2 separate regions of the Homo sapiens genome follow, and region 1 is linked to region 2. Evidence: fine-mapped expression QTL. A gene starts in region 2. The other region holds a variant in brackets. All regions are shown on one strand. Distances are from middle to middle.

Region 1 (16,281 bases), 33 kb before region 2:
ATATTTTGATTACCTTTACTAGCCTTTCAGGTCTCAGAAGCAGATAGATGATGATGGATAGATGGATGGATAGATGAATGGATGGATGGATAGATAGATAGGTAGATATGAGGACTAAGCTCTGCTTTTTTTTTTTTTTTAATCTTGCCCAAATTCCTATCTAAGGGGTCTGGGGAGTCATGCCCTATAAACCATAAATTCTCATCAGATGAGTTTTATTTAACCCTCTGTTTCATGACTTACTTTCCAATATGATCGCTGAAGGGGTTCACCTTGCCCACTGCCTAGACAGAGCTGATTTATATCAAGACACAGCAATTGCAATAGAGAAAGAGTAATTCACGCAGAGCAGGCTGTGCAGGAGACTGGAATTTTATTATTACTCAAATCAGTCTCACGGAAAACTTGGGGATCAGAGGTGGTTTTTTGTTTTTTGGTTTTTGGTTTTTTCTAGAAGGAGACTTGCTGTCATCCAGACTGGAGTGTTACCGGTGGTGACAGTCTAGCACCTTTTAAAGGTCTGATAGGAAACATTTGTCATCTCTTGTCTCTAAGGGCAGCCACTATGAGACTTCAAAAGAGACTTGGTCTTCACAGTCTTTTATTTTATTTTATTTTATTTATTTTTGAGACACAGTCTAGTTTTGTCACCCAGGCTAGAGTGCAGTGGACCTCTGCTCACTGCAACCTCCCGCCTCCTGGGTTTGAGAGATTCTCCTGCCTCAGCCTCCCGAGTGGCTGGGATTACAGGCGTGCCACCATGCCTGGCTGATTTTTATATTTTTAGTAGAGATGGGGTTTCGCTGTATTGGTCAGGCTGGTCTCAAACTCCTGACCTCAGGTGATCCATCCGCCTCGGCCTCCCAAAGTGCTAGGATTACAGGTGTGAGCCACTGTGCCCAGCCACAATCTTTTATCTTAACCTCAACATTTTCTTTCTGTTGATCCCAGGTCTTTAGACAAACTAAACCGACTGTCAAGCAGAAAATGTTTAAATTTACCTATAGCCTGGAAGCCCCCTGACTTCGAATTGTCCTGCCTTTCTGGACCAAACCAATATATGTCTCGAATGTATTTGATTGATGTCTCATGCCTTCTTAAATATATATAAAACCAAGTTGCACCCCAGCCACCTTGGGCACATGTTCTCAGGACCTCCTGAAGGCTGTGTCATGGGCCATGCTTACTCATATTTGGCTCAGAATAAATCTATTCAAATATTTTATAGAGTTTGACTCTTTTCGTTGACAGATAGACAGACAGATACTGGCATAGGAATAGACAGGCAAATCTAAGACTTTTAATCTCTCTCTTTTTTTTTTTTTTTTTTTGAGATAGCATCTCACTCTGTCACCCAGGCTAGAGTGCAGTGGCGCGATCTCGGCTCACTGCAACCTCCGCCTCCCGGATTCAAGTGATTCTCCTGCCTCAGCCTCCCGAGTAGCTGGGATTACATGCGCTCGCCACCATGCCCAGCTAATTTTTGTATTTTTAGTAGAAACGGGGTTTCACCATGTTGGCCAGGCTGGTCTAGAACTCCTGACTTGAGGTGATCTACCTGCCTCAGCCTCCCACAGTGCTGGGATTACAGACGTGAGCCATCATGCCCGGCCTTGATCTCTTAATTAAAACATCAATTTGCTGGAATAACAGGATGTATTTTTCTTTTATCATGCAGGACGGAGATGAGTAAAATCTCAGTAATCCTCTTCAGGGTTGACACAGCCCCCTTTTTTAAGTATTTAAGTGCTTAAGGAATATACAAAGATGTTGATTACAACATTATTACCAGGAAATATGGCTATCAATTAGAACCGAAGGCTTCTTCTCAAAGGTTAAGACTATTTTCATATTGAGGTAGTTCAGCAGGGCTGGTTTCACAAGTTACAGATCACAAGGACCCCCTGATAAAACAGGATGCGGTAAAGAGGCCCGGACCAAACCTGCCAAAACCTCTGATCATCCTCACCGCTCATTATATGCTAATTAAAATTAATTCTTGTGCTAAAAGACGCTACCGCTACCACCAGTGACTTGACAGTTTTACAAATGCCATGGCAACATCTATACATTACCCTGTATGGTCCGAAACGGGAAAGAGTCCTCAGTTCGGGGAATCCCCCACCCGCTGCCCAGAAAATTCATGAGTAATTGAATGAATAACTGTTGATAACCTTCAAGTCATGTTCAACAGTAAGCAGGCTTCCAAAGCAATCCACCTTGGGAGCTGTAACCCAGCCTATGCTATAACAACCATAAGATGTTGGTTACTTATTTTCTTCTCTGTTCTTTTCTTCCTCCACATGTGGTCATTGAAGTAGAGGGTGTTCACCAATTCACTAGTAATTGATTAACGTCACATTCTGCCCCCTGGAGGCTGCCTGCAAGATTCATGAACTTGTTTTGCTTCTGAAGAATGAAGATCCTGAGGTCATGCGACCTCCTTGGCGATGTCCAGAAGTTTGATTGACGAAGGGACGCAAACAGCTTTGATCATGGGGGAATCTCACCTCCCGCCCTACCCACCTTACAAAGGAAGGTCAGATTCGAGAGTTTGGGTCTCCCATCCTCAGGCCGTGGCCAAATTGAATAAACCTTTCTCTGCTCCTAAGCGCCCACATGTCAGTGCTTGGCTTACAGCGTGTCAGGTACTCAAACCTACCCTTTGGGGTTCTGCAACAGTCTTTTGACTCGATGGTAACATTGCGTCTCCAACTAAAGAATCTTATCATAAATTTCTCAAATGATTGATGTACTGATCAGTGTGTAACCTGCAGACACTAAATAGGACACTGATTTCTTTTAAGGTGAGCTGAAGTCTGAAGTTCGACTGATTGTCTTGTGTGTAGGCATTCTTATCCTGTATGATGTCATCTGTACCCCATGATGGTGATGGTAACCTCTGTGTTGTACCCTCTAAGGAAAGGAGTCCCCCTCCATTGTTTTTTGTTGTTGTTGTTGTTGTTTTTGAGATATATTTTTGCTCATGACACCCAGGCTGTGGTACTGTGGCACAATCTCGGCTCACCGCAACCTCCACCTCCTGGGTTCAAGCGATTTTCCTGCCTCAGCCTCCCAAGTAGCTGGGATTACAGGCATGCACCACCATGCCTGGCTAATTTTTTTTTTTTTTTTTTTGTATTTTTAGTAGCGACAGGGTTTCACCATGTTGGTCAAGTTGGTCTCAAACTCCTGACCTCAGGTGATCCACCCACCTCGGCCTCCCAAATTGTTGGGATTACAGGCATGAGCCACTGCGCCCAGCTCCCCCTTCCTTCTTTTAAACTTTCCTAAAAAAAACCTTGTGACAGACTCTGAAATACCCCCAACCTTGTTGGTGTGTCTTCCTGGGTCGATCATCACATTTGGCTTCCAATAAACCTTTATCAAATTATTTCTGCCTCAATAGCCTTAATTTCGGTGGACACTCTGGACTGCTTAATAAATGGTGCTGGCACAACTGGCTATCCATCTGGAAGAAAATTGAGTCCTTTTTCATACCATATGCAAAAATAAATTCCAGATGGCTCAGAGCTTCAATGTAAAAAATTAAAATCTTAGAAAAAAATCCAGAAGACATGTACAAAACAGAAATTAGGAAAATCCTTATAATTAAAAGAGAGAATCCAGAGACCTTCAACAAAAATATAGATCTATTTGATTACATAAAATCTAAAATGTCTGTATGGGAAAAGATACAAATAGACAACTAGGCCAGGCATGGTGGCTCACACCTGTAATCCTAACACTTTAGGAAGCCAAGGCAGGCGGATCGCTTGAGGTCAGGAGTTTCAGACCAGCCTGGTCAACATGGTGATACCCCATCTCTACTAAAAATACAAAAATTAGCCAGGTGTGGTGGCGTGTGCCTGTAATCCCAGCTACTCGGGAAGCTGAAGCAGGAGAATCACTTGAACCCGGGAGGCAGAGGTTGCAATGAGCCAAGACTATCCCACTACACTCCAGCTTGGGCAACTCTGTCTCAAAAAAAAAAAAAAAAAATCTGCATGTGACTTTTTTTTTTTTTAAATAGTTAGGGTCTCACTATGTTGGCCAGGCTGGTCTAGAACTCCTGGGCTCAAATAATCCTCCTGCCTCGCCCTCCCAAAGATGTGGGATTACAGGCATAAGCCACCATGCCTGGCCTTTTTTCTTTTCTTTCTTTCTTTCTTTCTTTCTTTTTTTTTTTTTTTGAGAAGGAATTTCACTCTTGTTGCCCAGGTTGAAGTGCAATGGTGCGATCTCTGCTCACCACAACCTCTGCCTCCTGGGTTCAAGCGATTCTCCTGCCTCAGCCTCCTGAGTATCTGGGATTACAGGCATGCGCCACCAAGCCCGGCTAATTTTGTATTTTTAGCAGAGACGGGGTTTCTCCATGTTGGTCAGGCTGGTCTCAAACTCCTGACCTCAGGTGATCCACTCACCTCGCCTTCCCAAAGTGCTGGGATTACAGGCATGAGCCACCGCGCCCGGCCCTTTCTTCTTTTTTTTTTAATGGGAGAAGGAGCCAATGCAATGGCTACTCTTTATTGGAAAGAAGAAACTTTGCAGCACATTTTGGGTAACTTGGTGCAGGTGCTCAGTACGTCAGCTGGCGGGGCACCAGCTTGTAATGGGTTCCATAGCTGGGGCATCACTGGGTCTCGCCTTTGTGCAGCCCAAAGCAGGTGATGGTACTGTTGTCCTCTACGCAGATGCAGCCCACTCTTCTCTTGTTGGTGATGGAGAGGACTAAATTAGGGTCTTCTTTGGTGCCTGAAGCTGCCTTTAGGGGTAGTATATTATATGGGTCCGGTCCCTTCCTTGCAGCCATGATGACCTCCCTCTCCAACGCAGTTGCCTGCTTGTCATCAGTAGTGCGATGCTGTTTGCAGGGTAAATAAATTGGAAATAAAGTGAATTCCCACTGGTGGATGAATGTGTAATTTATGGTACATTCACACCATTGACTAGTATGCAGCCAAAATTTCTACAAGAAATTATTGAGAAAAGGGACAGAATGATGTGTATAATCATGTGTGATGGTTAATACTAAGAGTCAACTTGATGGGATTGAAGGATGTAAAGTACTGATCCTGGGTGTGTCTGTAAGGGTGCTGCCAAAGGAGATTAACATTTGAGTCAGTGGGCTGGGAAAGGCAGACCCACCTTTAATCTGGGTGGGCACCATTTAATCAGCTGCCAGTGAGGCCAGAATATAAAGCAGGCAGAATAACGTGAAAAGTCCAGACTGGCTTAGCCTCTTAGCCTACATCTTTCTCTCATGCTGGATGCTTCCTGCCCTCGAACATCAGACTCCAAGTTCTTCAGCTTTGGGACTTGGACTGGCTTTCTTACTCTTTAGCTTGCAGATGGACTATTGTGGGACCTTGTGATTGTGTGAGTTAATACTCCTTAATAAACTCCCCTTTAGATAGATAGATAGATAGATAGATAGATAGATAGATCTTATTAGATAGATAGATAGATCGACAGATAGATAGATAGATCCTATTAGTTCTGGCCCTCTAGAGAATCCTAATACATCACGTGATGTTGTTTTTATAAAACAATGAAAAAACCTACATATGCTCATGCACAAGTACCTATGTTCCTTTGAAATTCTATGATCATGGAGAATATTTCTTGTATTCCAAGATCATTTACATGAGTTATCTGAAGAGCCGTGTGAAGTGGGAGAGAAGAAACAAGGGATGTGGGGAGCAGGGAGCAGTAAACCAAAAAGAAGGCCGGGCAAGGTGGCTCACATGTATAATCCCAGCACTTTGGGAGGCTGAGGCGGGTGGAGGTCAGGAGTTTGAGACCAGTCTGGCCAAGATGGTGAAACCCTATCTCTACTAAAAATACAAAAATTAGCCGGGTGTGGTGGTGCACGCCTGTAATCCCAGCTACTCAGGAGGCTGAGGCAGGAGAATTGCTTGAACCCGGGTGGTGGAGGTTGCAGTGAGCCAAGATGGCACCACTGCACTCCAGCCTGGGTGACAGAGTGAGACTCCGTCTCAAAAAAAAGAAAAGAAAGAAAGAAAGGAAGAAAGAAAAAAGCCAAAATGAAATAAACTGCATTCAAAAAAAGAAATTATACACAATATATTTTCATTTGTTCATTTAAGTGAGAGAGAGAAAGAGATTGTGTGTGTGTGTGTGTGCGTGTGTGTAATATAGAGAAATTCTTAGTGGTCAGTAAAACAACAACATATTTAGGTAGGATGATGTAAAAAGTCAAGTCAGAGGTATTTATATACTTAGAAATGCTTTTCTGCTCTGCCACCAAAAATAATAATAACTAAGAAGAAGAATCAATTTTAGGCTGGGCACAGTGGCTCACGCCTGTAATCCCAGCACTTTGGGAGGTAGAGGTTGGAGGATCGCTTGAGGCCAGGAGTTTGAGACCAGCCTGAGCAACATGGAGAGACCGCAGCTCTATTTTGTAAAAGTTAAAAATAAATAAATAAATATAAAGAATAAATTTCAGGGGCCCTCTAGTGGCTGCACATCATTTTCCTCCACTCTGACAGGTACCCCAGTAGCACCTCTATGACAAAAAGAAACTTAGTCCCGGATGCCACAAATAAACATTGTTATCATGATTTAAAGAGACACGGCCTGACGATGAAAGGTCTCCGTTTAAATCTCCTTGGTTTGTGCAACTCTGTAAAGAATCAATCATTAGATTGCTCAGATCCCGCCATCTCGATCAATCTGAAATACTGTATTTGTGTGTGTCTGGCCTGCTAGTTAAGATGTCTGGAGTGTTCAAAAGAATCAGTCTAGATTTATAATACTAGATTTATAATTAATCAAATTAATAATGTTTAAATGCTTAAGGAAAATTGATTTTCAGAGTTATATTACTTGAATAAATTGAGCAATAAAGTACCAATGTTAATGAGTATTCCTCTCCATACACAAAAATATCTTGAATAAAGCAACTATTAAAAAATCTGTTTTATTACTTAAAATTTTTTTTTTTTTTTTGAGACGGAGTCTCACTCTGTCGCCCAGGCTGGAGTGCAGTGGCGCCATCTCGGCTCACTGCAAGCTCGGCCTCCCGGGTTCACACCATTCTCCTGCCTCAGCCTCCTGAGTAGCTGGGACTATAGGCACCCGCCACCACGCCTGGCTAATTTTTTGTATTTTTAGTAGAGACAGGGTTTCACCGTGTTAGCCAGGATTGGTCTTGATCTCCTGACCTCGTGATCCGCCCACCTCGGCCTCCCAAAGTGCTGGGCTAACAGGCGTGAGCCACAGCGCCCGGCCATTTTTACTTAAAATTAAGATCACCTGCAAGTAACTGAAGCCTCAAAGCCAGAGGCCAAAACCAGACAGAAGCAGGCCTTCTGAGGATGGCCATGCATTTGTTCACCTTACAACCCCAGGTGAACCGGACATGCACAGTGTCAGCTGGATGATCAGACAGACAGGGGAAAAGTGAGCCCCCAAATGGACAGGTGAGAGGCATAGGCTCTTCCTCTCTGGCAAAGTGCTCTCCCTCCAGCAAGGCAGGGACGATGGCCTGCACTCCCGCTGGCCTGACTGCCCTGGCCTGGCCATCAACCGGAACCTGGCCCTCCTTCTCCAGAGGAGACCTCCCCGCATCCCCCCAGCCACATGGCTTCCTTGAAAGATTCCCACCCCCTGTCTGTGGTGGGCAGGGACCCAAATCCCACCACACCCTCCCAAAGTCAGAATGGACCCGGTGAGGCCAGGCGAGATGGCTCACACCTGTAATCCCAGCACTTGGGAGGCTGAAGCGGGCAGATCGCTTGAGCTCAGGAGTTTGAGACCAGCCCGGGCAACATGGTGAATCCCCATCTCTACCAAAAATACAAAAAACTAGCCAGCGTGGTGGTGGGCACCTGTAGTCCCAGCTACTTGGGAGGCTGACGTGGGAGGATCACCTGAGCCCAGGAGCTCAAGGCCGCAGTGAGCGCAAATGGTACCACTGCACTCCAGCAGGGGCAACCAGAGTAATATTCTGCCTCAATAAATAAATAAATTAATTAATAAGAACGGATCCAGTGAGGTGAGAAAGCACCGAAGCCACTGGAGGAGGCCAGCAGAGGAGCACAAGGAGGAAGGAGGCAGGGGGTGCAGGGGCAGGCGGGGCTCAGAGCCATCGGATTCCATCTAAAAGGCAGGGCCCAAAGGTGCAGTCAAGAGGAGGACAGGGAGGTCCTGGGGGTCCGGGGGTGGGGCAGCTTCTTCCCCGCTTTCCCATGGGATTTATTTTCAGGACAGCTGGGCAATTTGGGGAGCCGGGAAGGCTGCACCTGCCCCACCCCAGGCCAGCCGGGCGGCCTCCCTCCCCTGCTCCACCTTCTTGGGGTGCTGCTCTTCCTCTCCCTCTCCCTCTCATGGCACCCGGCCCTTGGGGCCTGCTTCCTCTGTGCCTCCTCCCTCTCAGGACAGTGGAAGAGGCGTCCGCCTTCCCCTGACCCCAGCGACCGCCGTCCCCTCCTCTCCCCTAGTGCCTGCATTCCTTCCTCTTTCCTTCTGCAGCTTTTCTCTCTTGCCCCCTCCCCTCCAGCTTCACAGGAACTTTCCCGCGCCTGCTTTCCTTCGTGCTGTATGGCTTTTCTTTCCAGGAGGCATCCGGACTGAACAGTGAAGCGGCCAGGGATGGGGGGGTGCGGAGGGGGTCGGGGAGGGGGGCGGGGGAGGGCAGTGAAGCTGGGAGGTGGACGGTGAAGCGTGGGGGACTGTGAAGCGGGGCGCTGACAGGGGATCTCCACGCAATGAGCTCTCCCGGGGCACCGGCCAGAAGCCACGCCTTCCAGGAATGGACCACGGACCGGCCTCAGATGGCTAGCTGTGGCCACCTGCCCAGGCGAGCTACAGGGAAGAAGACGGTGGCTTCCAAGTGTGCCCCCAGCCTTTTCAGGGCCTGTAAGGTCCACGGTTCTCATCATCATGTTTAAGATGTTGTCTTCCCGCTCTCATGTTCTCACAACGAACTGCGGAATTTTCCAGAGGCTGCATGCCATGCAATACTGCAACAGGTTTTTACGCAGGAGATATGATAATCCACCTAACTATTAAGCCAAACAAAAAAGAGGCAACGGGGCGTGGGGGGGACACGGCGGGGAGTAAAGCAACGCCAACTCTCCTCACTGAATCTTTCTGTTTTGGAAAATATATTTTTCATAAAATGTGTTACTTATGTTAATAGGTAATGGCTTCAGGCCCAGTGCGGTGGCTCACATCTGTAATCCCAGCACTTTGGGAGGCTCAGGTGGATCACCTGAGGTCGGGAGTTTGAGACCAGCCTGGCCAACATGGCGAAACCCCATCTCTACTAAAAACACAAAAATTAGCTGGGTGTGGTGGTGGGCACCTGTATTCCCAGCTACTCGGGAGGCTGAGGCAGGAGAATGGCTTGAATCCAGGAGGCAGAGTTTGCAGCCGAGATCACGCCACCGCACTCCAGCCTGGGCAACAGAGCAAGGCTGTCTCCAAAAAAAAAACAAAACAAAAACCATATATATATATATATATATATATATATATATATATATATATATATATATATATGAGAAATTTAAAAATATCTAATTCATTAAAAAATAATGAAGCCATTACTTTTTTTTTTTTTTTTTTTTTTGGAGAGAGTCTCGATCTTGTCGCCCAGGCTGGAGTGCAGTGGTGGGATCTCGGCTCACTGCAACCTCCACCTCCTGGGTTCAAGTGAATCTCCTGGCTCAGCCTCCCAAGTAGCTGGGATTACAGGCGCCTGCCACCACGCCTGGCTAATTTTTGTATTTTTAGTAGACATGGGGTTTCACCATGTTGGTCAGGCTGGTCTCAAACTCTTGACCTCAGGTGATCCACCTGCCTCGGCCTCCCAAAGTGATGGGATTACAGGCGTGAGCCACTGCACCTGGCCTCTAATATGATAAATATTGATAGCTATAACCCACATACACAAAAGCTCTCTGGGGTTCTTAACAGTTTTTAAGAATGTATATGGATTCAGCAACCAAAAAGTTTGAGAACTGCTGTAGAAGGATTAGTCATGAGGTGTCTGGTGCCAGATACAGGTTCAAGTCTCTGCTCTGCTACGTCCTAGCCATGTAGCCTTGAGTAACTAACCGCAGCCTCTCTAACCACTTGTCTCCACTCACAGAAACAGGTGCAACAATAGTACCTACCTCAGAGAGTCGTTGTCAGCATGCAGGTAACAACATACACAAGAGCTATACTGAGCACGTGTACCAGGGCAATTCTGAGACTTTTCTTGTTTTT[C/T]GTTTTTTCCTTTGAGACAGGATCTCACTCTGTCACCTGGGCTGGAGTGCAATGGCATGATCATAGCTCACTACAGTCATGACCTCCTGGACTCAAGCAATCCTCCTGCTTCAGCCTCCCATGTAGCTGGGACTAGAGGTGCCACCACACCCAGCTAATTTTTTCTCATTTTTCATAGAGACGGGGTCTCGCTATGTTGCCCAGGCTGCTTTCCAACTCCAGGCCTTAAGTGATCCACCTGCTTTGGCCTCCCAAAGTGCTGGGATTACAGGCTTGAGCCACCACACCCAGCCATGACATGTTCTTGGGGATTCAGAACTTGGGTTAAGGCTTAAAGCTAAAGACAAAGCATGCTGAGTGCCCCACTTTTTATTTTATTTTATTTTATTTATTTATTTTTTGAGACAGAGTCTCGTTCTGTTACCCAGGTTGGAGTACAGTGTCAAAATCTCGGCTCACTGCAAGCTCCGCCTCACAGGCTCAAGTGATTCTCCTGCCTCAGCCTCCCAAGTAGCTGGGATTACAGGTGCACGCCACTATGCCTGTCTAATTTTTATATTTTTAGTAAAGACGGGGTTTCCCCAAGTTGGCCAGGCTGGTCTCAAACTCCGGACCACAGGTGATCCTCCCGCCTCGGCCTCCCAAAGTGCTGGGATTACAGGCATGAGCCACTGCGCCCGGCCCTGAGTGCTCCACTTCCTAAAGGGAGCCACCAAGGAGTTGCCAGCAATCGACTAGAGCCAGACTCTACCCCCAGTGCAGGAAACTAGGACGAGGCAGAATCAGCCCTCATGTTACCACCTATGAGCATACACATGTGCGTGCATGCGTGCGCACACACATACACGAGCGTGCTATAGGAAAACAGCAAGAGTGACGCCACCTTGAAGCGTAACCGCCAGGAGGACTGGTGTCTGACCCTTGCATAACAATGTGTCCTGCAGCAAGGTCTTTAAACAATGCCCATCGCACAGATGACCCCTCGTAAAGATGCTTATCCAGCCTCCCCAGTGCTCATGAGTCTTGACAACAAAGTCTGAAGACATGACCAGCTACACGTTTCACCCTAAAAGCTTGCTATATAAAGAACACTTTCTGGAGGGCGGCTACGGGGATCTGCCATCTCTCAGCTGCCGGAGACACGGCCTCTGTTCTTAAGTCCCCATTAAATGTTTCTTTCTCAGAAACTGGATTTGTCAGCCTCTGTCTTTGGTCTCTTGCCTCCCTTGGTCTTGGGGGCAGGCATGCATAAATCTACCCACCACCAAACACAGGCACATCGCCTTCTTCCTCCTCTGACCCTTCCCCCACCCGTGGCTTTATCTACCACTATGTGCCCAGGCCCCAGCATCTGCATCCCAGCAAGTGTGGGGTAGCACTGAGGATGGTGGAGTCTGGGTGAGTGGCGCATGAGGGTCTTTATATTGCTGCCTCTACTTCTGCATGTTTGAATTTTTTCATAATAAAAAGTTTAGGCCAGGCACAGTGGCTCACGCCTGTAATCCCAGAACTTTGGGAGGCCAAGGTGGGTGGATCATGAGGTCAGGAGTTCAAGACCAGTCTGGCCAAGATGGTGAAACCATCTCTCTACTAAAAATACAAAAATTAGCCGGGCGTGGTGGCATGCGCCTGTAATCCCAGCTACTAGGGAGGCTCAGGCAGAGAATTGCTTGAACCTGGGAGGCAGAGGTTGCAGTGAGCCAAGATCGTGCCACTGCACTCCAGCCTGGGCAACAGAGCAAGACTCTGTCTCAAAAAAAACAGGGTGGGCGCAGTGGTCACACCTGTATTCCCAGCACTTTGGGAGGCTGAGGCGGGTGGATCACGACGTCTGAAGTTAGAGACTAGCCTGACCAACATGGTAAAACCCCGTCTCTACTAAAAATACAGGCATGGTGGTGCGTGCCTGTAATTCCAGCTACTCAGGAGGCTGAGGCGGGAGAATCGCTTGAACCTGGAAGGCAGAGGTTGTAGTGAGCCGAGATCACGCCATTGCACTTCAGCCTGGATGACAGAGGGAGATTCCGTCTCAAAAAAAAAAAAAAAAAAAGGCTGGGCACAGTGGCTTGTGCCTGTAATCCCAGCACTTTGGGAGTCCCAGGCGGGTGGATCACGAGGTCAGGAGATTGAGGCCATCCTGGCTAACATGGTGAAATCCCGTCCCTACTAAAAAAGATACAAAAAATTAGCTGGGTGTGGTGGCAGGCACCTGTAGTCCCAGCTACTCAGGAGGCTGAGGCAGGAGAATGGCATGAACCCGGGAGGTGGAGTTGCAGTGAGCTGAAATCGTGCCACTGCACGATTCTACCAAATGTGTTTTTCTCCCCTAAGCTTCAGAACTGTTTGTGAACTGCTTGTGGGACCACTCTACCTCAACACCTGTATCATGGACTGAATGTCTGTGTGTGTGTCCACCCTCTCATCACCCACCGCAAATTCTTATGTTGAAGCCTTAGGCCCCAGTGTGACGTTATTTGGAGGTGGGGCCTTTGAGAGGTCTTTAGATTTACTTGAGGCCATGAGGGTGGGGCCCCCATGATGGTATTAGCATTCTTAGAAGAAAAGAAAGAGACATCAAAGCATCCTCTCTCTGCCAGGTAAAGACACAGTGAGAAGGTGACCCTCGCCAGATACTGTATCTGCCGGCATCTTGGTCTTGGACTTCCCGGCCCCCAGAACTGTGAGAAATGAATATCTGTGTTCTGGTGTATGACACTGTGTTAGAGCTGCCTGTACTGCCAACCCACACACACTCTGAACTCAGTGAAACCAGCCCGGCCACGCCTTCCTCTGCCAGGTGTTTCCACTTGCTCAGCTCTCACCCTGCCATCCTCATCTCTGCCTTTAGCCATGGCCAGGGTCCAGTCTTCACTTTCTGCCTAGTGGGTAATTTGGATGCCAGGTGGGGGTGCCTTGGCCTCTGCATGGACCCAGCTGAGAAGTGCACGAAGTCAACACGCCAGAGCAGCTTCAGTAATGGGATGGGAAGGATGGGAGAGTGGCTATAGATTCCTATCCCCAGTTGGACGGACAATTTCGGGAGGCGTTTCGAACCCTTCCCCGAAAGTCCAGGTGGAATCAAACTCCTGTTCCCACAGCACCCACCTCAATAATGTGCCCTTACCCTGGCTTTCCCTCCTCCCCTGGCCCTGTCTCCACTCTTGCTTCCTAGAACCCCCTCCCAAATAAACTACCTGCACCCAAGTCCCTGCCTTAGACTCTGTTCTCATGGACGCTGCATCAGCTTGCTACGGCTGCCATAATAAGCTCCCACAGACCAGGAAGCTTAAACAACAGAAATGTATCCTTTCACAGTTGTGGAGGCTGAAGTCCAGGATCAAAGGTCAGCAGGGTTGGTTCCTTCTGAGCTTGGAGAGAAGGCTCTGATGTAGGCCTCTCTTCCTGGCTTATGGATGGCATCTCTGTCTTCACACAGTCATCTCACAGCATGTGTTTGTGTCCAATATCCCCCTCCCCCCCTTTTTTTTTTTTTCGAGATGGAGTCTCCAGGCTGGAGTGCAGTGGCGATCTTGGCTCACTGCAACCTCCACCTCTTGGGTTCAAGAGATTCTCCTGCCTCAGCCTCCAGAGTAGCTGTGATTATAGGTGCCCGGCTAATTTTTGCATTTTTAGTAGAGACAGGGTTTCACCATATAGGTCAGGCTGGTCTCAAACTCCTGACCTCAGGTGATCCGCTCACCTCAGCCTCCCCAAGTGCTGGGATTATAGGCATGAGCCATTGTGCCAGGTCCCAGGCATATTCTTGATCCCTCACTTTCATCAATTCAGTGGCCACATCTTGACGCTTCCACCACCTAAACCTATCCCCAGTCTATCTGTTTCTCTTTCACTGACATGTCCACAGTTGCGGCCACCATCCCCTTCCACCTGCATGGCTACAACAGACTGTTTAACTCTTCTCCCCACCATCAGCCCTGCCTGCTCCAGCCTAGCCTCTGTCCTGCAGCCCATGATGCACTGAAATGCAGACGTGCTCCCAGGACTTGCCCTTGGCTCTGACCACCTGTCTCAACGTTCAGATGTGTGTGCTAAGCTTGGCTGAACACACAGTAGGTGAGCGTTAGCCCCATGACAGTCCTGCGATCCGGAATCTGCCGTTGCAGAGACCTGCGATGCTCACCCCTCCAAGGTTCTGGAATAAAGGACTCTTGGGGAGAAGCAGATAAAAGGTGCCAGAAGCACTTCCAGGCCTCTGATGACACACTACGGACCATGGTGATGGCCTCACCCAGAGACACCCGCAGTTTCCTGTTCCCGTCACCTCAGTGAATTCTCTGTCCATCTGGGGTCTCAGCGAAGGGAAAGACTTGTCCGAGATTATGGCCGGTGACCAGCAGACCTGGGACCTAAACCCCAGGCATTGCCAGGGGCTGAAGCTCTTTCTTCAGCACAGTGGGGACACCACTGTCTGGCCTCTGAGCTGCAGCTCAGCCATTGTAACCCCTGTGACCTGCACATATACATCCAGATGGCCTGCAGGTCCATTATGGCTTGTTCCTGCCCTGCCCCAACTGATCGACCTGGTGACCTTCTTCCGGACAATGAGTATTATGATCTCCCCAACAGGCACCTTGTGACCCCCTCCCCTGCTGACAATAGCTAACCACCTTTCACTGTAACTTTCCACTGCTTACCCCAGTCCTATAAAACTGCCCCACCCCTATCTCCCTTGGCTGACTCTTTTTGGACTCAGCCCACTTGCACCCAAGTGAAATAAACAGCCTTGTTGCTCGCACAAAGTCTGTTGGTGGACGGATGCACTTGACAACCACCAGAAGGAATAATCAAATGCCCAGGAATTTTCTTTTTTTTAAATCATCTTTAATGTATTTTTAATAATTTTTTTGCCTCATTTACCAGATAAATCATCTAAATAAATAGATGCTATACAGTCTCTTACCAATGTCAGTACAAAAATAAAACCGCGCTCTACATCCACTCTGACTCTCCCAGCACACACACACTCAGCAAAGGCATGTGCTTGGAATCAACTCGTGCCCCCGACCCCTCCCAGATACATTCATTTAGTCTGAACAAAGCTCGAAGCTCATTCTGTGCAAAGGAAGCGCTCTTGTGCTGAGACCTGGTGGCCGCAGCTGGCCACTTCGAAAGCAAAAGCTAAACCACCTCACAGAAGCACAGCGCCTGCCCCCAGAACAAGGGGACAGGAGGAGCTTGGCAACGAGGTCATCACCCGAACAGCAGTGACAGTCCTGCATTCCAGGCGGCTGTGCCAGGGGTGGGGGTACCTCCTCCGCACCCCCCACCACAAAAGGAAAAGTGCCCACGGGTCTCTACATTCAAAGCGGGTGGGGGCTGGGGGAAAGAAAGGCAGATGGGCAAATGCTTTCTAAACCCTCCCCCCACCCCCAAGAGTACTGGCCTTTTAAGAGGGCTGCGGGGGTGGAGGTCACTGTCTGCCTTGCTCTACTGGGCCACTCTGGGCTGGAAGGAGGCCTGCACGGCCACAGCCGTAGGTGACCTCATAGAGGTCACCTGTCCTGGAGGATGGTCCTAACGGCCCACAGCCTTTTCCCCCAGGGAGCTGGCTCACTACAGCCCATGAGCCACCTGGCTGCCCTGAGCTGGGCACCTCAGGCCCACCCGTCCCAGGTCACACCCCTGGAGTTCAGCTCTCCCTGAGCCACGGAGTTCCCCATGGGCCATAAAGGGCTGAGTAAGAGGAAAGATGTGTCCTGCTGCTGCAGACAAAAGCAACTGCAGCACCCACACAGAAAGCCCCGTGAATCCACAGACCCACAGATTGCGCAAATAGTTCTTTGAAAGTGACCAGGAAGCAGGAAAAAGGTCCTATGTCCCCTGGGGGATGGGGAGCGTGACTTCTGCTGGAAGCTGCCAGCCATGTTCCAAAGTCATGGGCCAAAACATTCAACTAGAGACCCCCCACAACCCTCTATCATCTTTACCTCCGCTGGGCACCCCTCTCCTGGAAGAGTCCCCTCTGAACCCCAAGCTTCCCCTTCCCCTCCACAGGGCTCCACAGCTGGAGATGGGTGG
Region 2 (15,622 bases):
TCAGATACAGCTCCCTGCCTCCCAACTCCGAGATGGGAGGCTGGGAAGGCACAGAGGAGACACCTGAAAAGGAGAAGGCCTAGTTCAAGTCCCAACTCTGCCTCCACTTGCTGTGTGACCTAAGGCAAGCTGCTTACCCTCTCTGAGCCTGTTTCCTCACCTTGAGAGCGCCTGATCACACCTACCTTACAAAGCTGTATGGGAACCTGCTCTATAGACTGGAAAGTGCCGTCTAGAGGTGAGGGGGATTCAGGCTCTGCCCCTGGCCACACAGCACTGAGGACTCATGCAGCACTGTGCTTAAAGCAGCTGGGGTCCCCTCCTCCTGTCCAGCAGCCATCTCCAGTAGCCCGGATGCTGGGCCTTCACCTCCCAGTTGCCAAGAAAAGCCACAGGGAGGGGAGGAGGGAGAGCAGAAGCTCCAACTAGCAGAGGAGCTCAACACTCAGGAGGGCAGGGTGAGAAGAGAAGCTGGAGACCCACCTTGACCCTCCTGTGGTCCAGGGGGAAACTGAGGCCCAGAGAAGATGATGATTAAATCAAGGTCAGCTGTCCAGTTACAAGAGTAGCTGGAGCTAAAAGCTAGGCAGGGGAGGGGGCAAAAGGCAGGTGGAGGAATGCATGGGTCGGTAGGCAGACAGACAGACACACACACATGAAGGAGCTTACTTTGGGGGCCATCCTTTCCACTTCACCAGATACTCGACTTTACCCTGAGAAGAGAGAGAAGCAGACACAGTGAGTCTCGTGGTTGCCCCTACAGCCACTCGGAAGGACAGTTAAGGCCCAAAGGAGCCCAGCTCCAAATCCCATCTGCAGACAGGTGTCTCCCCAACACACAAACACAATCCGGGGACTGTCCACCAGATCCTCGCCAACCCATATAACCGCGACTGCTGCATGCCCGCCCCATACTGCCCTCCCTAGGACAGCACAGGAGTGCGTCTGGCTCCAGCCACCTCTGAGGCTCCTGAGGCCCAAGCCCAGGGCTCATGTCACACACTGGGAGCTGAGACTGCATGGAGGTGTGCATGCGTGGCCAAAGACCCACAGTGTCTAGAGCCCCAGTGCACAGGTGGGAACGCTTACTTTCTTTTTTAGATTGGAAGAGTCTCCAAATACGAAAACATTCCTCTCTGGGGTAGTCCCCACGCTCCTCCCCCATCTGCTGAGTCCCCTTTCAGTCTGTGAGTGGCTGCCTCTGGCTCAGAGGTAATGGGCCAGTGACTTGAGGACTCTCAACTCAAAAGACCCTGGCAGGACCCCATGGAAGACTGGCAAAGTCTCCACCTTCAGAAGGGGTGGTCAGCCCTGTGGTTGTTAGAAAGTAGAGCCAGGCCCCTCCCTTCCTCACAGGCTTTAAAAGTTTACAGTTACGGTGGCTCAAGCCTGTCATCCCAACACTTTGGAAGGCTGAGGCTGGAAGATCGCTTGAGCCCAGGAAGGAGTTTGAGACAAGCCTGGGCAACACGGTGAGACCCCTGTCTCTGAAAAAAGGAAATTAGTTGGGCATGGTGGCACTTGTCTGTGGTCCCAGCTACACAGGAGGCTGAGGCAGGAGGATCGTTTGAGCCGGGGAGGTTGAGGCTGCAGTGAGCCATGTTCATGCCCCTGCACTGCAGCCTGGGTGACAGAGTGAGATCTTGGTGCCAAGAAAAAAAAAAGTTTACAGTCCAACCCCATTGTGAGTGAAGCCCCTGCACGCCAGAACTTTAAGACCAAAATATGATACCTCCTCACAGAGGCTTTCCCTGGTGACCCTCTCCCATGCTGTCTCCACTGGCACCTTGCAGTTCTATTTCTGCAGAGCACACAGCTCCATCTGAAGGCATCTGTCTGTATCTCCTCATTCACTGTGTGCCGCCTCTGCAGAATGCCAGCTCCCTGAGGGAAGGGGTGGATCCCTGGGGCTTAGACTGGTGCCTGGTACCTGACCAACCCTCAATAAATATTTTGAGTGACTGGCCGAAGGAATGATGATCTCGCCCTCTTGTGCTACCCTGCGGGCTCCATCGTAGAGGGAGTTAGTGCTGTGCCTGCTTCAGGCTACACAGCACGAAAAGCACTGAGCTTTGTGGAATAAATCAATTCTCTTTTAAGTGGAGAAAACCCTAGGAAAAAGGAGAAGGAGGAGGAACAGCTGCCTCAATCAGAAGAGTAAAACCCCAAGCACAGCTGGAGGAAGAAAAGATGCTCCTGACCACCTTGACCTTCACCCTTGGCCCGAGATGCCAGGACTGAGTTTTCTCTATGGAGAAAGAAGATGGGCTGCCAATCAGCCCAGTTGAGCTCCTGCTCTACCTCCCTATCTAACTTGCTCGGTGACCTTGAGCAGGTCACTTCCTCTGCCTGGGCCTCAGTTTTTGTCTCTGTTAAATGGGAGGAGGTGACCCCCTAAGGCCCCTCCCAGTCGGCCTGGAGCCTCCCAAAGGGCTGCAGGGAGGAGGAGACAAAGGAAGGACAGTAGTGCGTACCAGGAAAGGAACTTCTCCCCAAGGATTTCCCCAGCCTTAGGCGAGCCCCCTCGCCAAACAAGTGCACGGGAGGTGTAGACGCCAGGCCCGGACAAAGTCTAGCCCCAAAGTGTGGGGTTCTGAAACCAGCAGAACAGACACCTCCTTAAATTGCAGGGTGTATGTTTTGAAGAAGGCAGATGGGGTAGGAGACTAGGGGATGCCCCAGCGCAGGGGGCGGGCTTCAGAGCCCTGGCCTGGGCTAGGAGTTGAGGTGGGGGTGGGGGCGGGGAATAGGGATGTGCTCGGGTGGCGTAGAGGGGGCAGGATCGGAAAAGGCCAAAGTCCAGCAGGAAAAACTTCAGAGGCCGGAGGAGACTTTTCCAAAGCTCCACTTACAACTTGAAAGGATTTGGTGCCAAGCGTCCAGAGTCCCGAGTTCAAAACCCAGCTCTGACCATAACGCGCTAGGCAAGTCCTTTCAACTTGGGCCTCAGTCTCCCCATATTTACAATAAAAGGGGAGCGAGGTGGGATGGCGCTGAGGATCCCTACGTCCGATCCTAATCTCCAGCTCAGGCAGGCTCGGCCGCCACTAGCATCCTGGAGCGACAACTTTTGTTCTACTCGCCCTACACGGTGGCAGGGAAACTGAGGCACGGGCTGGGGAGACGGGCCCAGCAGCGCAGGGCTGCCGGGGCCCCCGCGCCCCGCTTTCCCCTTCAGCCCCAGCGTGGAGGGAGCGGTGCTGGGGACGGGAGGGACCCCACTGGGGTCCTGGGAGCCGCCCCCGGGCAGCCTCACCTTCCGCACGCGCTTCTTCCGGATGCTCTCCACGGCGAACACCTGCTCGCCGATGGCTGACAGCTCCATGCGGGGCGGCGGGCGAGCGGGCCCGGGGCCGGGCCGGGCCGGGGGCGGAGCTGCGGGGCCGCGGCTGCGGCGCGCGATGCTGGGGCTGGCGGGGTCCCCGTCACCCTCGTCCGGGCGCGCACGCGCACGCGCACGCGCGCACACCCCCTCGCGCTCCCTCACGCCGCCGACGTTCCATTTTTGAACCTGCGCAACGTTTTCCTCGGCGCCAGCGAGCGAGCGCGCGCAAGGAGGGGGCGGGGCGGGAGCGCGCGGAACGGCCGCGGGCTCGGCTCGCGCCCTGAGGGTCAGCTCCGCCCCCGAGCCCCGCCCCCATCGGAACCCCGCCCCCGGGGCCCGCCCCCGCGGGTTGCGATTGGGCCGCGGGCCGCGAGCCGCGAGCGCTGCCGTGGGACTTATTTGGCTCGGTCACCGGCTGGGGCGGGGCGGAGGCTCGCGCGCCCCGTCTTGCTGTGACGCCGGGGCGGGACGTGATCCTTAATACCCAGGCGGGCGCCTCATAGCCTCCCGGTGACTGCCAGGGGCCGAAGTGGCAGGGCCCAGTGGAGCCGACGACAAAGTCAAGGCTCAGAGCGGGGAGGCCATTTGCTCACCTCCCGCAGCGGAGGAGACTGGGCCCGAGGCGCAGCCCCTCGAGTTGCAGGAGAGCCGGGACCCAAAAGGCTTCCCACCGTGTCCGGACGTCGCAGGGCCGAGGTCTCCCTAATCCGGCCTTCTCCGCGGCGCAGTTTGGCCAGTGTCTCCACGTCCGTCCACCCACCCCTCCATCCGCCCTTCCATTTGTCCATCCACCCGACCCTCGGTGGTCGGTGCCCAGACGCACGGGTCAGACGCGGGCGCTGCCTCGAGGGCTCCCGGGCCGGGCCCTCGTTCGCGGCAGGAGCGGCCGCGGTGGAGCTGAGGTCCCCCGGGGACGGATTTTGCCGCCGCGCTGCCCCAGCCTTCCCCAAACCCGCGTGTACTGGGCGCTAGGTGCTTAGTGGGGGCTCAACCATTTGTGGCACGAGACGAACTCTTGATTCCCCACCCCCCTTCCTTTTTCGCTAACGCGCCTCCATTCCTCACTGGGAGCCCGGCGTCGTCCCTGCTCCTTCCTGTACTGACCCCAACTTCTGTCGCTCCGGCATCCCCTCGGGGACTCGGGTCTGCCTGCCCTCACCGCACCCACCTCCCAGGTTCGCCCCGTCTTTTCTCTGGACCACAGCAGAGACCTCGCGGAGCTGCCCTCCCTCCGATCTCAGCCACACAGTGCCAGAGTGTGCTTCTAAAATGCAGATCTGACGGGGTCACCCTGTGCTTAAAAATTTTCCTCCCTATTTCCCTCACAATAAAATCCAACACCTCTTTCTGGCACATAGAAAAAGAGAATAATAGATTCACACCTGACTTTTCATCAAGAGCAACAAAGCCAGAGAGAAAATAACCATCATCTTAGAATTATATATTCAGTGAAAATGTATTTCAAGAATTATGTACCCAGTATGAGGCACATGTATCCAGAACGTAGGTGAAATCATAGCACTTACAAATACAAAAACTTAAGAGTTTGCCACTGGTAGACCCTCCGGAGGGAGATTCCAAAGCTGGAACTTCAGGCAGGAAAAAGATGATCCCAGACGGAGGTCTGATGCAACTGGGAATAAAGAAAAATGAAGAACAGCGATAGTGTGAAACAATAACAATGACTTCTGGATAAAAACAGATTTAAAATACACAACAGTGATGGCATTTACTTGGGTGAATGGAGTTAAAGTGTTCTAAGATCCTTATATTCTTCAGGAGGAAGGTGAAGATAGATACCAAATACACTTTGACGAATTTAAGAATCCAGATTGTCATTACTGGGATAAACACTGTAGGACTGGAAATACTGTGTATAGTTATCCAAATTATTGGAGGAGGAAAAAGAATGATTAAACCAACCCAAACAACTGTAAAGCAGGCAAGAATGGAGAGAAAAATAAATACAAGACGGGGCAGGGAGGGGACAAATAGACGATAGCTATAAATTCGAATATTTTGTGATTCAATAAATGCAACTAAATATTGCAGTTAAAATACAAAGATTATCAGAATGCATAAATAGCTAGATGCAGTTTACAAGAGAAACCCACAAGAGACACTTCCAAAACATAAAGCTAGTGATGGTCAAAAGTAAACACATGGGGGGAAAATACCACGCAAATGCTAACGAAAAGAAGGCTGGTGCAGTTATTTTAATATCGAGGGAAAAACATCACTAGAGATAAATAAGGTCATTTCATAATGAAAAGTGTCCAATTCACCAGAAAAATAGAACAATTTCACATTTGTATGCAAATCATCTTAAAATATAAGAAACATGAAGAAGACAGCTAGATGGAGAGATAGACAAATCCACAATTATAGTGGGAGATCTTAACACTCACCCCTCCATAAGTGGTAGGAGAAGAAGAAAAATATTCAATAGTATATAGGAGATTTGAACACAATTAATAAACTTAACTAATGGACTTCATAGCACACTGTTATCTACCATGGTAAAATACTCCCCTTTACAAGACATGGAATACTTACAAAAACAGTTCATTTCAATAAATTTCAAAAGTCAGAAATAACAGAATACATTCTCTGACCACAACACATATAAGCTAGAGATGAATAATAAAAAGTTCACTTCAAAAGCCCCATATGTTTGGAAAGTAAGAAGTATGGGTTTTTTTGTTTTTGTTTTTCATTATATTTATTTATTTATTTTGAGACAGAGTTTTGCTCTTTCACCCAGGCTGAAGTGAAGTGGCACGATCTTGGCTCACTACAACCTCTGCCTCCCAGGTTCCCAAGTAGCTGGGATTATAGGCACCCGCCACCACCCCCAGCTAATTTTTGTCTTTTTAGTAGAGGTGGGGTTTCACCATGTTGGCCAGGTTGGTCTCGAACTCCTGACCTCAGGTGATTCAACCATCTTGGCCTCCCAAAATGCTACAATTACAGGCATGAGCCACGGAAGAGGTACGTTTTTATGTTAACTAGCGGTTCAAAAAAAAGAAATTGTAATGGAAATTATAAAATATTTTTAACTGCTCTTCCGCTGTCGCCGTGGGAATGGAAATCTGTCCCTCGTGCTGGAAGCCAACCAGTGGTGATGACTCTGTGTGCCACTCCGCCTCCTACAGCGCGGATCCTCTGCGTGTGTCCTCGCAAGACAAGCTCGATGAAATGGCCGAGTCCAGTCAAGCAAACTTTGAGGGAAATTTTGAGTCGCTGGACCTTGTGGAATTTGCTAAGAAACAGCCATGGTGGTGTAAGCTGTTCAGGCAGGAATCTGGACCTTCCCCGAAAAGTGAAGGGTGGCAACCCAGCCGTTCATTGGGGGTGTCACTGAATGGTGCACGGGTTTCATATCCCAGAAGGTTGGAAAGTTGGCTGTAACAGTTGTGGGAGGTGTTTTGTTTTTTTCTCCTTCAGCTTGCAAATCATACTGGGTACATCAAAGTTGACTGGCAACGAGTGGAGAAAGATATAAAGAAAGCCAAAGAGCTGCTGAAGATCCCTTAAGAGCAATCAGATACCTACCAAGGTCAGGAGCAAAGCTGAGGAGGTGGTGTCGTTTGTGAAGAATGTTCTAGTGACTGGGGGATTTTTCGGAGGCTTTCTGTTTGGCATGGCATCCTAAGGAAGATGACCTTATTTTCATTGTTCTTGTTTTTTTTCCATCCAGCAGTCTCTACACTCCATCATAGGACATCAAGTCTCTCCTCTTCTCCTGTGCCTTCCTCCCTGCTGTAGCAAATCCGAGTGGCTTCTATAAGCATCTCTTGGTACAAGTTAATGTGGCCCTTGGCCAAGTGCGGTGGCTCATGCCTGTAATCCTAGCAATTTGGGAGGCCGAGGCGGGTGGATTGCCGGAGCTTAGGAGTTTGAGACCAGCCTAGGCAATATGATGAAACCCCATCTCTACTAAAATACAAAAAAAAAAAAAATTAGCCAGACGTGGTGGCAGGCACCTATAATCCCAGCTACTTGGGAGACTGAGGCAGGAGAGTTGCTTGAACCCGGGAGGCGGAGGTTGCAGTGAGCTGAGATCGCGCCACTGCACTCCAGCCTGGGTGACAGAGTGAGACTCCGTCTCCAAAAAAAAAAAAAAAGTTAATGTGGCCCTACCATGAGCTTGATGGTGGCAGAAGAGGCAATAGTTGTTAGGTCTCCTCCCATACACCCCGTATGTGGCCAATCTGTAGGTCAGCAAGAAGGTTCCTTTTCCCCCATGCAAGACACTTACCAGATCACATTGCAAGATGACTCGCCATGGAGGATGAGCAGACCCTGAAAGGTTGTCTCAAACTGTTGATTTGGAAAAGAAATAAGCACATAGATAAACTTATTGTGTGCTGCATGGAAAGGAACTGAATACATTTGCCTTTAAGCATGAAAAAAATATTTTTAACTGAATGACAATAGAAATATTACATAGTAAAAATGTTGGGCTATGGCTAGTGCGCTTCTTAGAGGGAAGTTTATTGCCTTTTGTGCTTATATTAGTAAAGAGAAAAGGCTGAGAGTAATGAACAAGCGCTCGTTTCAAGAAGCTAGAAAAAGAGCAGCAGAATAAACCAAAGAAAATGAAAGGAAGGCAAGAGTAAAGGTACAGGAGAAAATAGGCCAGGCACAGTGGCTCACGCCTGTAATCCCAACACTTTCGGAGGCCAAGGCAGACGTATCACCTGAGGTCAGAAGTTTAAGACCAGCCTGGGCAACATGGCAAAATTCCATCTCTACTAAAAATATAAAAATGAGCAGGCTTGGTGGCTCGTGCCTGTACTCCCAGCTAGTCAGGAGGCTGAGGCAGGAGAATTGCTTGAACCCTGGAGGCGGAGGTTGCAGTGAGCCTATATCATGCCACTGCACTCCAGCCTGGGCAACAGAGTGAGACTCCATCTCAAAAAAAAAAAAAAAAAAAAAGAAAGAAAGAAAAAAGAAGAAGAAGAAATGGTAAAGAGAAAATAATGAAATGGGATCAGCAAAACCAAACATTATTTCTGTGAAAAGACTAATGGCATGGACGACTCCTGTTGAAATTGATCAAGAAAAAAGAGAGAAAACACAATTAACTAATATCAGTAATTAAAAGTTACAGAACCTGTAGACATTTTAAAAAGGAAAATAAAAGAGGATATTATGAATAGTCTCATTACAATAGCGTAAAAATTTGAATGAAAGGGGCAAGTTCCTAGGAAAATATGCCTTACCAAAATGGTCGCAAGATGAAGAGAAAACCCGAATGAGTACCATCCCTAGTCATAGTACCAAATTATGAAATACTTTCATAGCCAGTTACTGACCATTTGAAACACTTTCCAGCCTTCACATGGAGCAGGGTCCAGAAGGCTGTCCAGGCAGTAATTCCGTGATTTATGTGACATCAGAAGGTCTGGGGGATCTGGGGCATCCCTGGAAGAGTCATTGCACTTAGGAGGTTGATCGTAGCGGCTACATACCAATTGGTATGAAATTATTTTGGAATTTGAGCAACCTGAAGTCCTATGGCACCAGCTGGACATCAGACCTCCCCATAATGATTAAAGGAAGGAAACCGGTAATGCTTCCACAAAGAAAGCTCAGACCCAGAAGACTTCACCTATAAGCTCTTGAAAGAACTCATTCCAATGCTACCCCCAACTTTTCCACATAATAGAAAAAGAGAGACTGCTTCCCAATTCTTCATATGGCAAGTACAGCACAAGAGAAAATTACAGGCCAATGTCACTTATGAATATAGATACCAAAATCCTAAATAAAACAGCAAATCAAATTGAGCAGTATGTAAAAATGATACTACATAGTGGTAAAATTGGGTCTAATCCAGAAATGCAAGGTTGGTTTAACATTTGAAAACCAGTCAATATAATTTGCCTCATTAAAAAATGAAAGGAGAATTAGCCAGGCATGGTGGCGGGTGCCTATAATCCCAGCTGCTCCGGAGGCTGAGGCAGGAGAATCGCTTGAACCCGGGAGGTGGATGTTGGAGTGAGCCAAGGTCGTGTCGTTGTACTCCAGCCTGGGCAACTAGAGCAAACTCCACTCAAAAAAAAAAAAAAAAAATTAAAGGAGGAAGACATGTGATCATCTCAGTATATGCAGAAATAGTTCAACATCTGTTTGTTTTAAAACTTGTAGCAAACTATCAACACAAGGGAATGTCTTTATCCTGGTAGAGGGCTCTATAAAAAACCTACAGCAAATATCTTAATGAATGTTGAAATGTGGAAAACATCCCCTTGAGATCAGTTACAAGGCAAGATTGGATGAATCCCCATTTCTGCTAAACATCACACTGGATATCCTGAATCTGTTGCCCACTGTGGTGGCCATTGGCCAAATGTGACTGTCAAGCATTTGAAATGTGACTAGTTCGAACTCAGACAGAAGAATAAAATTAGATACAGGCCAGATTTCAAAGATTTAGTACCCAAAACATGTAAAATGCCTCATTAATAAGTTGATATTTATTTAATATGGAAATGATAATATTTTGATACATTAGGTTAAACAAAAAATTCATCTTTTTTTTTTTTTTGAGACGGAGTTTTACTCTTCTTGCCCAGGCTGGAGTGCAATGGCGTGATCTCAGGTCACTGCAACCTCCGCCTCCCAGGTTCAAGCGATTCTCCTGCCTCAGCCTCCTGAGTAGCTGGGATTGCAGGCATGCACCACCATGCCTAGCTAATTTTGTATTTTTAGAAGAGATGGGGTTTTGCCATGTTGGTCAGGCTGGTCTCGAACTGCTGACCTCAGGTGATCCGCTCGCCTTGGCCTCCCAAAGTGTTGGGATTATAGGCGTGAGCCACCGCGCCTGGCCTATAAATTAATTTTTAATGAAGATTTTAGAAAATTTTAAATTACAGTTGATCCTTGAACAACACAGGTATGAACTATGTGGGTCCACTTATTCATGAGTCTTCTTCCACCTCTGGGAGGTGGCAAGACAGCAAGACCCACCCCTCCTTTTCCTCCTCCTCCTCAGCCTACAAAGCATGAAGAGATGAAGACCTTTATGATGATCCACTTCCACTTAATGAAGAGTAAATATATTTTCTCTTCCTTATGATTTTCTTAATAACATTTTCTTTTGTCTGGCTTACTTTATGGTAAGAATACAATATATAATGCATGTAGCATATAAAATATGCGTTCATTGACTGTTTATGTTATAGGTAAGGCTTCCAATCAACAGTAGATTATTAGTAGTTAAGTTTTGGGAGAGTCAAAAGTTATATGAGGCCAGGTGCAGTGGCTCACTCATGTAATGCCAGCACTTTGAGAGGCCAAGGTAGGTGAATCACCTTAGGTCAGGAGCTTAAGACCACCCTGGTCAACATGGTGAAACCCCATCTCTACTGAAAATACAAAAATTAGCCAGGTGTGGTGGTGGGCACTTGTAATCCCAGCTGCTGGAGAGGCTGAGGCAGGAGAATTGCTTGAACTCAGGAGGCAGAGGTTGTAGTGAGCTGAGATGGCACCACTGCACTCCAGCCTGAGTGACACAGAAAGACGGTCTCAAAAAAAAAAAAAAAAAAAAAAAAAAAAAGACAACAAATGAAAGAAAGGTGAAGTGATTTGAAATAAGACCATCAGCCAGTCGTGGTGGCTCATGCCTGTAATCCCAGCACTTTAGGAGGCCTTCAATAGCTTATAGGTGAAGTCTTCTGGGAGGCTGAGGTGGGCGGATCACAAGGTCAGGAGTTTGAGACCAGCCTGGTCAACATAGTGAAATCCCGTCTCTACTAAAAATACAAAAATTAGTCGGGCGTGGTGGCTTGCACCTGTAGTCCGAGCTATTCGGGAGGCTGAGGCAGGGGAATTGCTTGAACCTGGGAGGCGGAGGTTGCAGTGAGCAAAGATCGCACCAATACACTCCAGCCTGAGCTACAGAGTGAGACTCTGTCTCAAAAAAGAAAGAAAGAAAGAAGACCATCATTATTTTCAGATTTTATGTAGAAAATTTTAAAAATCTTCAGAATATTTATTATAATTAATAAGAAAATTTAGCAAATTGTTGGATAAAATATCAACAGACAAAAACCTATTGTGTTTTGTGTTTCCATATGCCAGTAATAATTAGAAAATGAAGTAAAATATTATTTATATTATAATAAAAATATGTAAGATATCTGGGAATAAATCTAATGAAAATATGCAAGGCCCTTATGGAATAAAATCATAAAATTATATTGCAAGACATTAAAGAAGATCTAAATTTATTTTTTTGGCCGGGCACGGTGGCTCACACCTGTGATCCCAGCACTTTGGGAGGCCAAGGCGGGAGGATCACTTGAGGTCAGGATTTCGAGACCAGCCTGGCCAACATGGCAAAACTCCATCTCTGCTAAAAATACAAAATTTAGTCAGGCATGGTGGCATGTAGCTATCTATGATCCCAGCTATTCTAGAAGCTAAGGTAGGAGGATCGCTTGAGCCTGGGAGGTTCAGGCTCCACTGCACTCCAGCCTGGGTGACAGAGCGAGACTGTTTAAAACAAAAAACAAACAAAAAAAAACAACAACAAGACATAAAGCTATAGCAAATAAAACAATGTCCTATTGTTCAAGACTAGACAAATAGAAAAAAAGGAATGACAATGAGAGCTTAGTCAAAGAGAGAAGGAGAGAGAGAGAATAAAATTGCAGTCACTGGGTAAAGGATACACTTTTCAATAAATGGTGATAGTTATTCATACAGGAAATTAGACCATTAGACCTCCTGCCTGGCAAAAATTGACTCCATCTGACTTCAAATCCTAAATGTGAAAGACAAAATTCTGAAACTTTTAGAAGATGATATTTTAAAATATCTTTATCTTTATGATCATGAAGTAGGGAATCGTTTCTTAAACAAGAAACCAGGAACATAATTCATATAGGAAACAATTGATAACTTAGACTCCATTAAAACTATGAGCTTTCTTTATGAAAATACATATAAAGTCAGCCAGCGACTTGAAAAGCTGAGGCAGGAGAACCGCTTGAACCTGTGGGGTGGAGGTTGCAGTGAGCTGAGATCGTGCCACTGCACTCCAGCCTGGGTGACAGAGTGAGACCCTGTCTTAAAAAAACAAGGCCAGGAGCGGTGGCTCATGCCTATAATCTCAGCACTTTGGGAGGCTGAGGTGTGTGGATCACCTGAGTTCAGGAGTTCGAGACCCGCCTGGCCAGACTGGCCAACATGGTGAAACCCCGTTTCTACTAAAAATACAAAAAATTACCGGCCGTGGTGGTGGGTGCCTGTAATCCCAGGTACTCAGAAGAATCGCTTGAACCTGGGAGGCGGAGGTTGCAGTGAGCCGAGATTGCACCACTGTACTCCAGCCTGGGCAACAAGAGTGAAATTCCATTTCCAAACCAACAAACAACAAAACAAAAAGAGCCAGGCGCGGTGGCTCACACCTGTAATCCCAGCACTTTGGGAGGCTGAGGCGGGCAGATCACCTGAGGTCAGGAGTTCAAACCAGCCTGGCCAACATGACAAAACTCCATCTCTACTAAAAACTACAAAAATTAGCCAGGCGTGGTGGCAGGCACCTGTAATTCTAGCTGCACGGGAGGCTGAGGCAGGGTTGAACCCAGGAGGCAGAGGTTGTAGTGAGCTGAGGTGGCACCACTGCACTCCAGTCTGGGCGACAACGTGAGACTCCGTCTCAAAAAAAAAAAGAAAAGAAAAGAAGAAAATATATATAAAGTGAACAGAAAAGAAAAATATTTAAAACACTCATAAATGGACAAAGGAGGTGATGTAAAGAGTTCCTGTGAATCAAGTGGGAAGATGGACAATCAGTTGTAGCAAAATACAGGAGTGCAGAATGTGGCAAAGACTTGGACAGGCAAAGAGAGGAATCACCAGTGGCCAACAGTTGTGAAAAGTTGTTCAAGCTCATGAGTAACGCAAATAAAATCCCACAATGAGATACGACTGATTAACAAAAATGTTAAAGTCCGTTTTAAAAATTATTGCAAGCAGGCTAGGTGTGGTGGCTCACGCCTGTAAACCCAATACTCTGGGAGGCTGAGGTGGGAGGATTGCTTGAGCCCAGGAGTTCGAGATCAGCTTGTGCAATATAGCAAGACCCTTGTCTCTACAAAAAAATCAGAAATTAGCCAGGTGTGGTGGTGCATGCCTGTACTCTGAGCTACTCAGGAGGCTGAGGTGGGAGGATCACTTGAGCCCAGGAGTTCAAGGCTGCAGTGAGATATGATCACGCCACTGCACTCCAGCCTGGGTGACAGCGAGAGACCGTTAAAAAAAAAATCTTGCAAGCACTGGCAAGAATGTGGAACAATTCTTCTTCTTCTTCTTTTTAGACAGTCTCACTCTGTCACCCAGGCTGGAGTGCAGTAGTGTGATCTCGGCTTACTGCAACCTCCACTTCCCGGGTTCAAGTGATTCTCCTGTCTCAGCCTCCCGAGTAGCTGGGATTACAGGCATCTGCCACCACACCTGGTTAATTTTTTTGTATTTTTAGTAGAGATGGGGTTTTGCCATGTGGGCCAGGCTGGTCTCGAGCTCCCGACCTCAGGTGATCCACCTGCCTCGGCCTCCCAAAGTACTAGGATTACAGGCGTGAGCGACCGCACCCGGCCTAATTTTTGTATTTTTAGTAGAGATGGGGTTTTACTATGTTGGTTAGGCTGGTCTCAAATTCCTGACCTCGTGATCCACCCACCTTGGCCTCTCAAAGTGCTGGGATTACAGGCATGAGCCACTGTGCCTGGCCTATGTATGGTAACTTTAACTTTTTTTTTTTTTTTTTTTTTGAGATGGAGTCTTGCTCTTGTTGCCCAGGCTGGAGGGCAGTGGCGTGATCTTGGCTCACTGAAACCTCCGCCTCCTGGGCTCAAGCAGTTCTCCTGCCTCAGCCTCCCAAGTAGCTGGGATTACAGGCACGCACCACCACGCCCAGCTAATTTTTGTATTTGTAGTAGAGGCAGTGTTTCTCCATGTTGGTCAGGCTGGTCTTGAACCCCTGACCTCAGGTGATCTACCCGCCTCGGCCTCCCAAAGTGCTGGGATTACAGGTGTGAGCCATGGCACCTGGCCATGTATAGTAACTTTTAAAGAAAATTCCAAACTGTTTTCTAATGTAGCTGTGCTATTTTGCATTTCCACCAACACTATTTGAGAGTTCCAGTTGCTCCACATCCTCACCAACTCTTGATATTGTCAATCTTCAATTTTAGCTATTTATTGCCCATATACTGACTGAATGTAGAGAATTTGCATTTCTCTAATGGCTAATGATGTTGAGGACCCTTTCAAGTAGTTATTTGCCATTCATATATCCTCTTTGGTGAAATGCGTTTTCAAATATTTTGCCCATTTTAAAAATCAGATCATCTTCTTAGTCTTGAGTTACAAGAATTTTTGGCCAGTCATGGTGGCTCACACCTGTAATCCCAGCACATTGGGAGGCCGAGTCAGGCAGATACTTGAGGTTAGGAGTTTGAGACCAGCCTGACCAACATGGTGAAACCCCGTCTCAACTAAAAATACAAAAATTAGCCGGGCATGGTGGTGTGTGCCTGTAATCCCAGCTACTTGAGAGGCTGAGACATGAGAATCACTTGAACCCAGGAGGCAGAGGTTGTAGTGAGCTAAGATGGCACCACTGCACTCCAGCCTGGGCAAACGGAGCAAGACTCTGTCTCAAAAAAAAAAAAAAAAAAAAAAAAAAAGATTTCTTTATATAAATATTTTCACCAAGACTGGTTTGCCTTTTAATTTTTTTCTTTCTTTTTTCTTTTCCTTTCTTTCTTTTTTTTTGAGCTAGGGCCTCACCCTGTCACCCATGCTGGAGTGCCATGGCATGATCATGGCTGACTGTACCCTTGACCTCCCAGGCTCAAGTAATTCTCCCACCCCAGCCTCCTAAGTAGCTGGGACTATAGATGCACACCACCATGCCCGGCTAATTTTTGCATTTTTTTTGTAGAGATAGGGTTTGGCACTATTGCTCAGGCTGGTCTCGAACTCTTGAACTCAAGCAATCCACCTGCCTTGGCCTCTCACAGTGCTGGGATTATAGGCATGAGCCGCTGCATCTGGCCACCTTTTAATTTTTTAAATGATGTCTTTTGAAGAACAAAAGCTCTCACATTGCAGAATAGGATCCATTTTGGGTTAATTTTATATATGATGTGGGGTGAGGGTCAAGGTTCATTTTTTTCTCCATAAGGTTAATCGATTGTTCCAGCACCTTTTGTTAGAAAGACTGTACTTCTCCTTACTGAATTGCCTTAACACATTTATCAAAAGTCAGTTGCTTTT

What was found. PIP is the estimated chance that this variant, and not a neighbour inherited with it, causes the effect.
Region 1: its variant is fine-mapped to the expression of CBX7 in whole blood (TOPMed, PIP 0.91).

Annotation. Positions count from the first base shown.
Region 1 is chr22:39,115,710-39,131,990 of GRCh38, forward strand. It overlaps CBX7 (chromobox 7), which reads right to left. Exons shown (of 6, transcript NM_175709.5): 6 at 15,063-16,281. It also overlaps the pseudogene COX5BP7. Among named protein-coding and RNA genes, the nearest start is that of APOBEC3H, 27 kb to the left of the region's middle. RefSeq lists enhancers at 2,032-2,131, 2,142-2,291, 15,717-16,278 and a silencer at 12,940-12,989. The variant C/T (reference allele first, on the strand shown) is at 10,243.
Region 2 is chr22:39,149,120-39,164,741 of GRCh38, forward strand. CBX7 (chromobox 7) reads right to left here and starts at 3,561. Exons shown (of 6, transcript NM_175709.5): 1 at 3,257-3,561; 2 at 670-713. The coding sequence starts at 3,325. It also overlaps the pseudogene FUNDC2P4. RefSeq lists enhancers at 1-103, 1-59, 3,139-3,720 and silencers at 3,178-3,227, 3,298-3,867.